Homo sapiens: one gene and its partner. The protein of the gene in region 1 purifies or fractionates together with the protein of each later gene. This does not show direct contact. Each region holds a gene or a part of one and is shown in the gene's direction. Other genes may lie near its edges.

What was found.
Region 2: the proteins of SH3PXD2B (region 1) and SCLY fractionate together in Homo sapiens (co-fractionation; one large-scale study listed by BioGRID). This does not show direct contact.

What each region holds. Positions count from the first base shown.
Region 1 is NC_000005.10:172,451,726-172,455,921, reverse strand, and holds the start of SH3PXD2B (SH3 and PX domain-containing protein 2B), read left to right. Parts: upstream 1-1,396; 5' UTR 1,397-1,569; coding exon 1,570-1,644; intron 1,645-4,196. UniProt on the Homo sapiens protein: Adapter protein involved in invadopodia and podosome formation and extracellular matrix degradation. Binds matrix metalloproteinases (ADAMs), NADPH oxidases (NOXs) and phosphoinositides.
Region 2 is NC_000002.12:238,095,501-238,099,000, forward strand, and holds part of SCLY (selenocysteine lyase), read left to right. Parts: intron 1-1,300; coding exon 1,301-1,376; intron 1,377-2,701; coding exon 2,702-2,855; 3' UTR 2,856-3,500. UniProt on the Homo sapiens protein: Catalyzes the decomposition of L-selenocysteine to L-alanine and elemental selenium.

The sequences.
Region 1 (4,196 bases):
ACGTGGCCTGGCCGAGGCTGAGAGCCGTCCTACCCTGGATAAGCCCACCCTTTTCCAAAGGCTGATCCTGGACCGGGGTGGGAAGTAGCTCTGTCGTGGCATGGAGAAGAGTCGTACGGTTTGTTGAAAAGAGCCCCCACTTACTGGCTGTGAAAACACTGGCCAGGAGCCTAAACCTCCCATCCATGCATTATATATTCATTTATCCATTCATTCAGCCAACATCTCCTGAAAGTGACTCAGTGCCCAGCCAGTGCTAGGAGGCACTAGATGAAGAAACGAGGAGCTGCCCCAGCCACGGCAGCTTCAACGTGTGAGATCCACCTAGAGCCAGGCAGTGACGGGCTCCATCCACCGGCTCCCTGACTCTGGACCTTCACTGATGTAATTCCTGTAAGGCACATTCTTCTGAAGTACAGTTCCCAAGTCAGAGGGTCCTCAGGCCTCATTGGAAATGTCCAAATGTCTGGAGGCCGTCCTCTGTAAAAACACCTTTTCCTCCTAGAGTCTGCCTGAGGATGCAAAGACAGCATTTGTGAAAAGCAGGGGCCACGGGGCCCAGCGAGCAGTTAAGTGCTCCGCAACTGGAAATCGATGGCCTTGCTAACAAGCACCCAGCTGCCCCTCACACATAGTCACCACCCTTTTATCCCCTTTTGTTGCTTCCATGGCAATTACATTGCACGTATGCGCATTTGTTGCAGTTTTTCTCTCCCTCACTCCCCATGTCCCAGACTGAGGCTGGGGGAACCTGGTCACGGGTCTCTTGCTCCTCCTGAATCACCAGGGCTTGGGGTGGCTTTAGGAACGCCAGCACTCATACCATGGACTGCACTGCGGAATGGCTTCACATGCACTTAATCCCGGGCGCAGCACCGGCAGGCAGGCGGTACTACTGACACGTGCTACAACATGGATGAGCCTTGAGGACATTATGCCGAGTGAAATAAGCCAGACACAAAAAGACAAACATGGTGCTTGTACTACTAGGCTCATATTATAGACGAAGAGACCCAACCCAGAGAGGTTAAGCAACTTGCCGAGGGCACAGAGTGGAAAAGCGGCAAAGCCGGGATTCGAACCCGGGTGTCCGGCTCTCCAAACTGGCGGTGGATGGCGGCTGCCGGAGCGAGAGTGCTGGAATGAATCGATACGTCAATCAGTGAACGGGCGACGGGGTCAGTCCAGTCCCCTCCCCCGGCGCGGCGGCTCAGCACCGGGACAAAGGCCGGGCGGGGGCCGGACGTGGCCGGCGGGGTTCGCGCGCGGTGGGCGGGGGTCGGGGCCGGGCCCTTTAAGGGGGGCGGGCCGGCGGCGCGGGGGGCGGTGCGGGGGGCGGTGCGGGGGGCGGTGCGGGGGGCGGGCCGGGGGCGGGCGGCGGCGGCTGGGCCCGGCTGGAGTGCGCGCCGAGCGAAGGGCGGCGGCGGTGGCGGCGGCGGCTCGTGCTCGGCCCCGGCTGCGATTGCGCTCAGCTCCAGGTTCCCTGCCCGCGGCGGCGCGCCCCCAGCGCTCCCTGCACCCCGCGCCACCCGCACCCGCGCTCGGCCCGCTGCGGGCGGAGGAGCGGCCATGCCGCCGCGGCGCAGCATCGTGGAGGTGAAGGTGCTAGACGTGCAGAAGCGGCGGGTGCCCAACAAGCATTATGTGAGTGCGGCGCGGCCCCCACGCCCCCTTGAGCCCGCGCCCCGTCGGGGGCGACCGAGGGCCCCCGGCTTGGAAAACTTCTGCCTCCAGCGCTTCCCGTCCCCTCCTCCCCTGCTCTCCCCTCGGCTCTGCGGCGGCGCTGCCCGGGTCCCTCCCGACTCCTCCTCCCTCCCTCCCCTCCCCTCCCCGCTTTTGCCTCGTTCTCCCCCTCCATCCCTTCCTCCCGCCTCGCCCCCCTACTCGCCTCCCTGCGGCTCCTCTACCCCTTTCTGTCTTCTCCGTGTCCCCCCAACTCCCGTCCTGCTCATCTGTGGAAAAGTCTGGCTCCAGCCGGTGAGGGGTCTGAGACAGAAAGCGGGAGAGACAGAAGTGCCTGTTCTCAGGCCGCCCGCCTTGCCCCTCCTTGTCCAGAGGCGCGCAGACCCGCAGTCCCCAGCCACAGGTAGCCCCTCTAGGGTTCGCCGAATTTGACTCCGTTCTTTGGCAAGAGCCGGCCTGGGCGATGGAGGAGATCTCTGGGAATGGATCATTTGAGTGGCTACGCCTTTAAAGGGTTAAAAACATCCCCTGCCCCCTCTCTCCAGTAACTTCTGTTTTAAAATGTACGAAAGTTTTCTCCTGGCATCTCCCTCTGGAACATGGGAATCTTGTTTGGAGCTGGCAAGGACTTGAGAAAATGGGACAGTAGCGTCGTTTTGCAGATAGGAAGGCTGAGGCTCAGAGGTTGCAGGTCCTGGAACATAGAGCTGCATTCGGGCTTCCCTCCCTCCAGCAGGGGTGCCTGGGGCTGACGGTGACCTGCAGGTGGAAAGTGGCTTCCGCAGCAACCTAGGGGACACGTCTGCAGATTCAGGAGGCCCTGGGACCACCTCGCAGGTTCTAGGTGGAGATAAAGGGGATGTGGGGTGATGGGCCCACATGAGGCCTTGGGGAGGGCCTCATTACAGCAGGGAAGGGGGCTATAGTGTCTCTGGCGGTGAGAAGTGGGCAGTGGCGGAGCCTGGCTGCAGAGAAGTTAACCAGGAAGGGAAAAAGAGTAAGAGGGAGGGAAAAAATCCTAACAAAGAAGTATAGAACAATGAATAGAAAAGGGCGTTGGCTGGCTAAATTAAGCTCCTTGGCCTCCCTGGAAGTCGTCTTCAGATCTTTTTTTTTTAAGAACTAATTCTTACAAAGTAGATCTGCATGCCTTCCGTGAATAGCCTGTGAAATTCTGAAAGGAGATAGCCGGGAACCCACTCCGCGCTCTCCACAAGAAAGGGTGTGCTGTGTGAGTCTGTATTGTTATTGGCTGGGCAGCCAGTTATTCAGCCCTTAGCCAGGCGGTGGGAAGCTATTTCCTGGACCTGTGGCATCTTTATATAGAGTGAAGTTTCCCTTGATTCCAGAGCTGAGCTAAATTGTCTTTTTTTTTTCCTTCCTTTTTTTATTTTTTGTTAACTGTTTTCAAATGCTGCCAAATCTTAGTTTCTTGTTTGAGCCTGTTAGCGTGTAAGTGAGTTTGCCTCTTTGGCATGAAGACAGTTTTCACCAACATGGCAACTGGAGGAAGTCTGGAATTCTCCATGCCACCTCCCACCAGGTCTGTGAGCTGGCAAAAACGAGAATAGATACTGCCACCGAGGCCCGGCCATCATCGTCCACGCGCCCTCTTCTGGCCTCTCCTATCACGCCCATATCAGGCAGAGGGCCTTAAGCCCATTTGACAGATGAGGAAACCAGGGCTCAGCAAAGTGAGGTCCCACGCCTAAGGTCACAGTCAAGAGCCAAGCAGGGATGTAGATCCAGGCCCGCTGGACCCCAAAAGGACCACACCACTTCCCACATCCGGTACCCCTATAGTTTCTCTGAGCAAAGTCCTCTGAAAAACTGGGAAATCTCTCTTATCATTAGTGAAAACCTGGAAGCTTTTCATTCTCTGCTGTGTCAGCTCCATCCTTGCCAGTTTTTTGAAGGTTTTGCGCTTTGAGAACCGTCTTTTGAAGCTTTCAGCCACTTTTTGGGGGCCCCCTGAGACAAGTTTCTATGTTAAAACATAGATTGGGATTCAGATCTTGGCCTCCCAGGTTGTAGCTGTGTCACCTCAGCCTCAGTTTTTTCATCTGTGTAATGGGGATGGTGGTGTCCATTTCCTAGAGGTAGCAGCCGCATGACAGGCTGCCTTAGGGCATTCCTAAATGCCCTAAAGGCATAGCTCCCTGCCTGCCTGTCCTGAGGTATCTTGTCACTGATTGGGAACATGCCAAAGTCACATGGTAGGGGGATTCATCAAGAACTTGTTTTTCTGCATGTGGCTTTAGTCACTCATGTGATTCAAGAGGCCCTCTCCCTTCTAGCCCAGGCTTCTGGGTTCATCAGATGAGGAGGGGCAATGGGCTGAACTGAAGCCTGAGTCATCCACAGGAACAGAGAACATTTACTGCCTTGATGGCAGGGGGGCCAAACCCAATGGAAACAGATCCCTGTGGTGGGCGACCGCTGCTGTTCCCAAGCTCCACCCCAACCCCTCACACAATCTGGAAAGAGCGGGCATGAAGGCAGCTATTGGCAGG
Region 2 (3,500 bases), on another chromosome or scaffold:
CCAGCAGTCGTGTTTGGCCCATGAAGAAGAACCCGTGGGTAACCGTCATGATGGCTGCGTTCATGAGAACCTGGGCTGAAATGCGTTCTTGTGGGCAGTGAAGCCTGGGTCTCCTTGACCATCTCAAATTCCTCACCATGGAAAGGAGAGTTCTCTGTCAACGTTCCCCTTGTTCTGGGGTCAGACTTTGTGTTCAGTGACAACCTGTGTTACTTTAAATGAGACAGAGGTTCTCATTTTATTTATTTATTTTTTGATTCAGGGTCTCACTCTGTCGTCACCCAGGCTGGAGTGCTGTGGCGCAATCACAGCCCACTGTAGCCTTGACCTTCTGGGTTCAAGTGATCCTCCTGCCTCAGCCTCCCTAGTAGCTGGGACTACAGGCATGCACCACCACACCTGGATAACTTTTTTTTTTTTTTTTGAGATGGAGTTTCACTCTTATTGCCCAGGCTTGAGTACAGTGGTATGATCTCGGCTCACCACAACCTCCACCTCCTGGGTTCAAGCGATTCTCCTGCCTCAGCGTCCAGAGTAGCTGGGATTACAGGTGCCTGCCACCACGCTGGGCTAATTTTTGTATTTTAAGTAGACACGGGGTGTTGCCATGTTGGCAAGGCTGGTCTCGAACTCCTGACCTCAGGCGATCCACCCACCTTGGCCCCCCAAAGTGCTGGGATTACAGGCATGAGCCACTATGCCCGGCCTTGGCTAATTTTTAAAAAATATTTTGTAGAGATAGGGTTTCCCTGTGTTGCCCAGGCTGGTCTCAAACTCCTGGCTCAAGCAGTCCTTCTACCTTGGCCTCCCAAAGTGCTGGGATTACAGGTGTAAGCCACTGCACCTGGCTGAAATTCTCAGGTTAATTACATCAGCAGTCATTAATGGCTGTGCTTGTGAAAGAAGAGGGAAATGCCTTCTGGCTTAATAGAACTCCCACGTGTCTCTACCATCCAGAACACAGGTGGAGACGTGATATTGCCGGGGCTGCCAGCTTGTAAGGAAGGAGCGGGTCAGGACTCCAGGTGTCTTAGCAGGCAGTTGATTACAAATGCGATTTTCAAGGCCAGCTTTGTGAGGCAGAATAGTGTCTGCGTTTGTGCAGCCAAGGGAGAAAGGAAGCGTTTTCTTCGGCTCCTGCTGTGAGATCTCTCCCCAGCTGCCAGAATGGCCAGTGCTGGAATTCCACCAGGTGGCACAGAGGGAGGGAAGCAGCCTGCGCCCAGCAGGACCCCGGGAAGGGACAGAAGGGCAACCTGGCTGGAGCCCCATCTCAGGGGCATGTGCTCTGTCTCCGCAGGCCACGTGGTGCTTGCGCAGTGCCGAGTGCTGATGGCCAGTGTGGGGGCCGCGTGCCACTCGGACCACGGGGACCAGTAAGTGCTCTTCACAAACCCAGTCCAGGGCATAGGGGTCCTCCGGGCACTGGGTGTGGTGGGCAGGCGGCAGGATCCGGCCACTGGGCCGCACTCTGGCTGGTGAAGGACAGCCCTGTCTGGGCCCTAGGAGGGGCAGAGGGAGGGCTTCCTGGAAGAAGTGACTTCCAAGCTGCCATCTGAAGGACTAGGACTTGTGCGGGAGAAGAGGGCTTCTCGTGCTCAGTTCTGAAGGCGGAGGGAGGGCAGGGCCTGGAGGGCCAGCGTGGCCGGGGCTGGGGAGGGCTGGGGCGGGCTGGGGTGGGCTGGGGTGGGGATGGCCTGAGTGTCAGTGCTTACTTAAACCTCATGGAAGTGGGAGCCCTGAGGGCCATGGTGTGAGCAGACTCAGGTGTCAGATCAGCCATCTGCAAGATGCAGCAGAGATTCTCAGATAGCAGGGCCCGGGTGAGCGGGTGGGCTGCCTGGCGGAGACTGTGGGGTAGAGGGCGTGGGGTGCCCGAGCAGCGGCCTGCTGGCAGCAGGGGAGAAGTGGTTCTGGGTCTGGTCTGCTGAAAACGTGAGGCCCCTGTGGGAGGTCGGAGTGGACGCAGGAGGAACACTCAGGGTTCTGGGGAGAGAGCGGAACTGTAGCCAGCAGCACGTGGCCATCAAGGTCAGGGCAGAGGGATTGTGCAGGAGCACCTGGAGCGAGACAGTGGTGGGCCTGGCTCCAGGGAAAAGGAGGGGCAGGATGGGGCCCTTTGTTGGGGGGACAGTGCCCTGCTGCAGGAGGGGCAGGGGAGGAAAGGGACCCGGGTGTGATGAGGTCAGGCCCCTTGACAGAGCCCACATCTCGAGCCTCCAACAGCCTTGCTTCAGGATGTCCCCACGCAGTCATCTGTTCATGGCTAGATACTGACTGGGTCCCTAGTGTCTGCAAAGCCCCATGCTAGGTGCCATGAAGTTACCAAGTGGCTCAGGTGGGCCGCATGGGTAAGGCACTGTCTGTGTCGGCATCCGTGTTCTCCAGGACCTCAGACCCCTCAAGGACAGGAGAGCCCCTGGCCCCAGAGCTCAGTGCGAGAGGGAGGCAGTGTCACCTGGGAGTGCCAAGTGCAAGAGAACTCTGCAGGGAGAACGGGGGCGACTTTGAGCCACACCTTGATGTGGGTGATCTTAGGGGTGTGCTTGGTCTGGGAGTTTAGCAGGAGGTGGATGCCAGGCGAGGCAGGCGCACATCCGGGTGGGCAGAGCCCCACTAGGGGAGTGGTCCAGAGCAGGGGGGGCTGTGTCTCTTCCATGTGCCCTCAGCAGCAGCTGCAGCTCGGTCTCGCCCTCCCCAGGCCGTCCCCAGTGCTGCTGAGCTACGGTGTCCCCTTCGACGTGGCCAGGAACGCGCTCCGGCTCAGCGTGGGCCGCAGCACCACCAGGGCCGAGGTGGACCTCGTCGTGCAGGACCTGAAGCAGGCCGTGGCGCAGCTGGAGGACCAGGCCTAGCACTGGGGCCGCCTTCCCCACCCCGCTTCTGGGAAGCCCGTGGCAGGGCACAGGGTTGTCCCTCCAGTTCCCTCCTGAGGGCTGTGCCAGGATGACTGTCTCATGCCCCCTCTGCATTTTGTCCTGGAGTGCCAGCGAGTGTGCACCCCCAGTTTCCTTCCCTGGACCCCTGCAGAGCTCACAGGGCCCAGGACACCAACGCCGCATAGGACTGCCCACATGGGACCGCCCACATAGGACCGCCCACATAGGACCGCCCACATGGGACCGCCCACATGGGACCGCCCACATGGGACCGCCCACATAGAACCGTCCTCCAGTGGTGAAGCGGAAACACTTAGCTTTATCCACCCTCCCCACTGGGAACTGGGCACGCCTGTTGTGAGTGCCCTTTCCTGGAAGGTGTTTTTATCTGGAAGATAGAATCCAAGTATTTATAACTCATTGTCAGCCAAATGCTATCATGAACGTAGGAAACTTGATTTTTTTGTTTTGATCATGGCCTCTACATGCACCTTTCCAGAGTGGTCTCTTCTCAGGCCCTTTTTAGTCCCTTTCCAAAGCTGCCCCCACCACCCTGCTCCTCTGGCCTCAGTGCACAGTGGCCCCCAGCCTCGGCCAGGCCTGCTCTGCTCAGCGCCCACC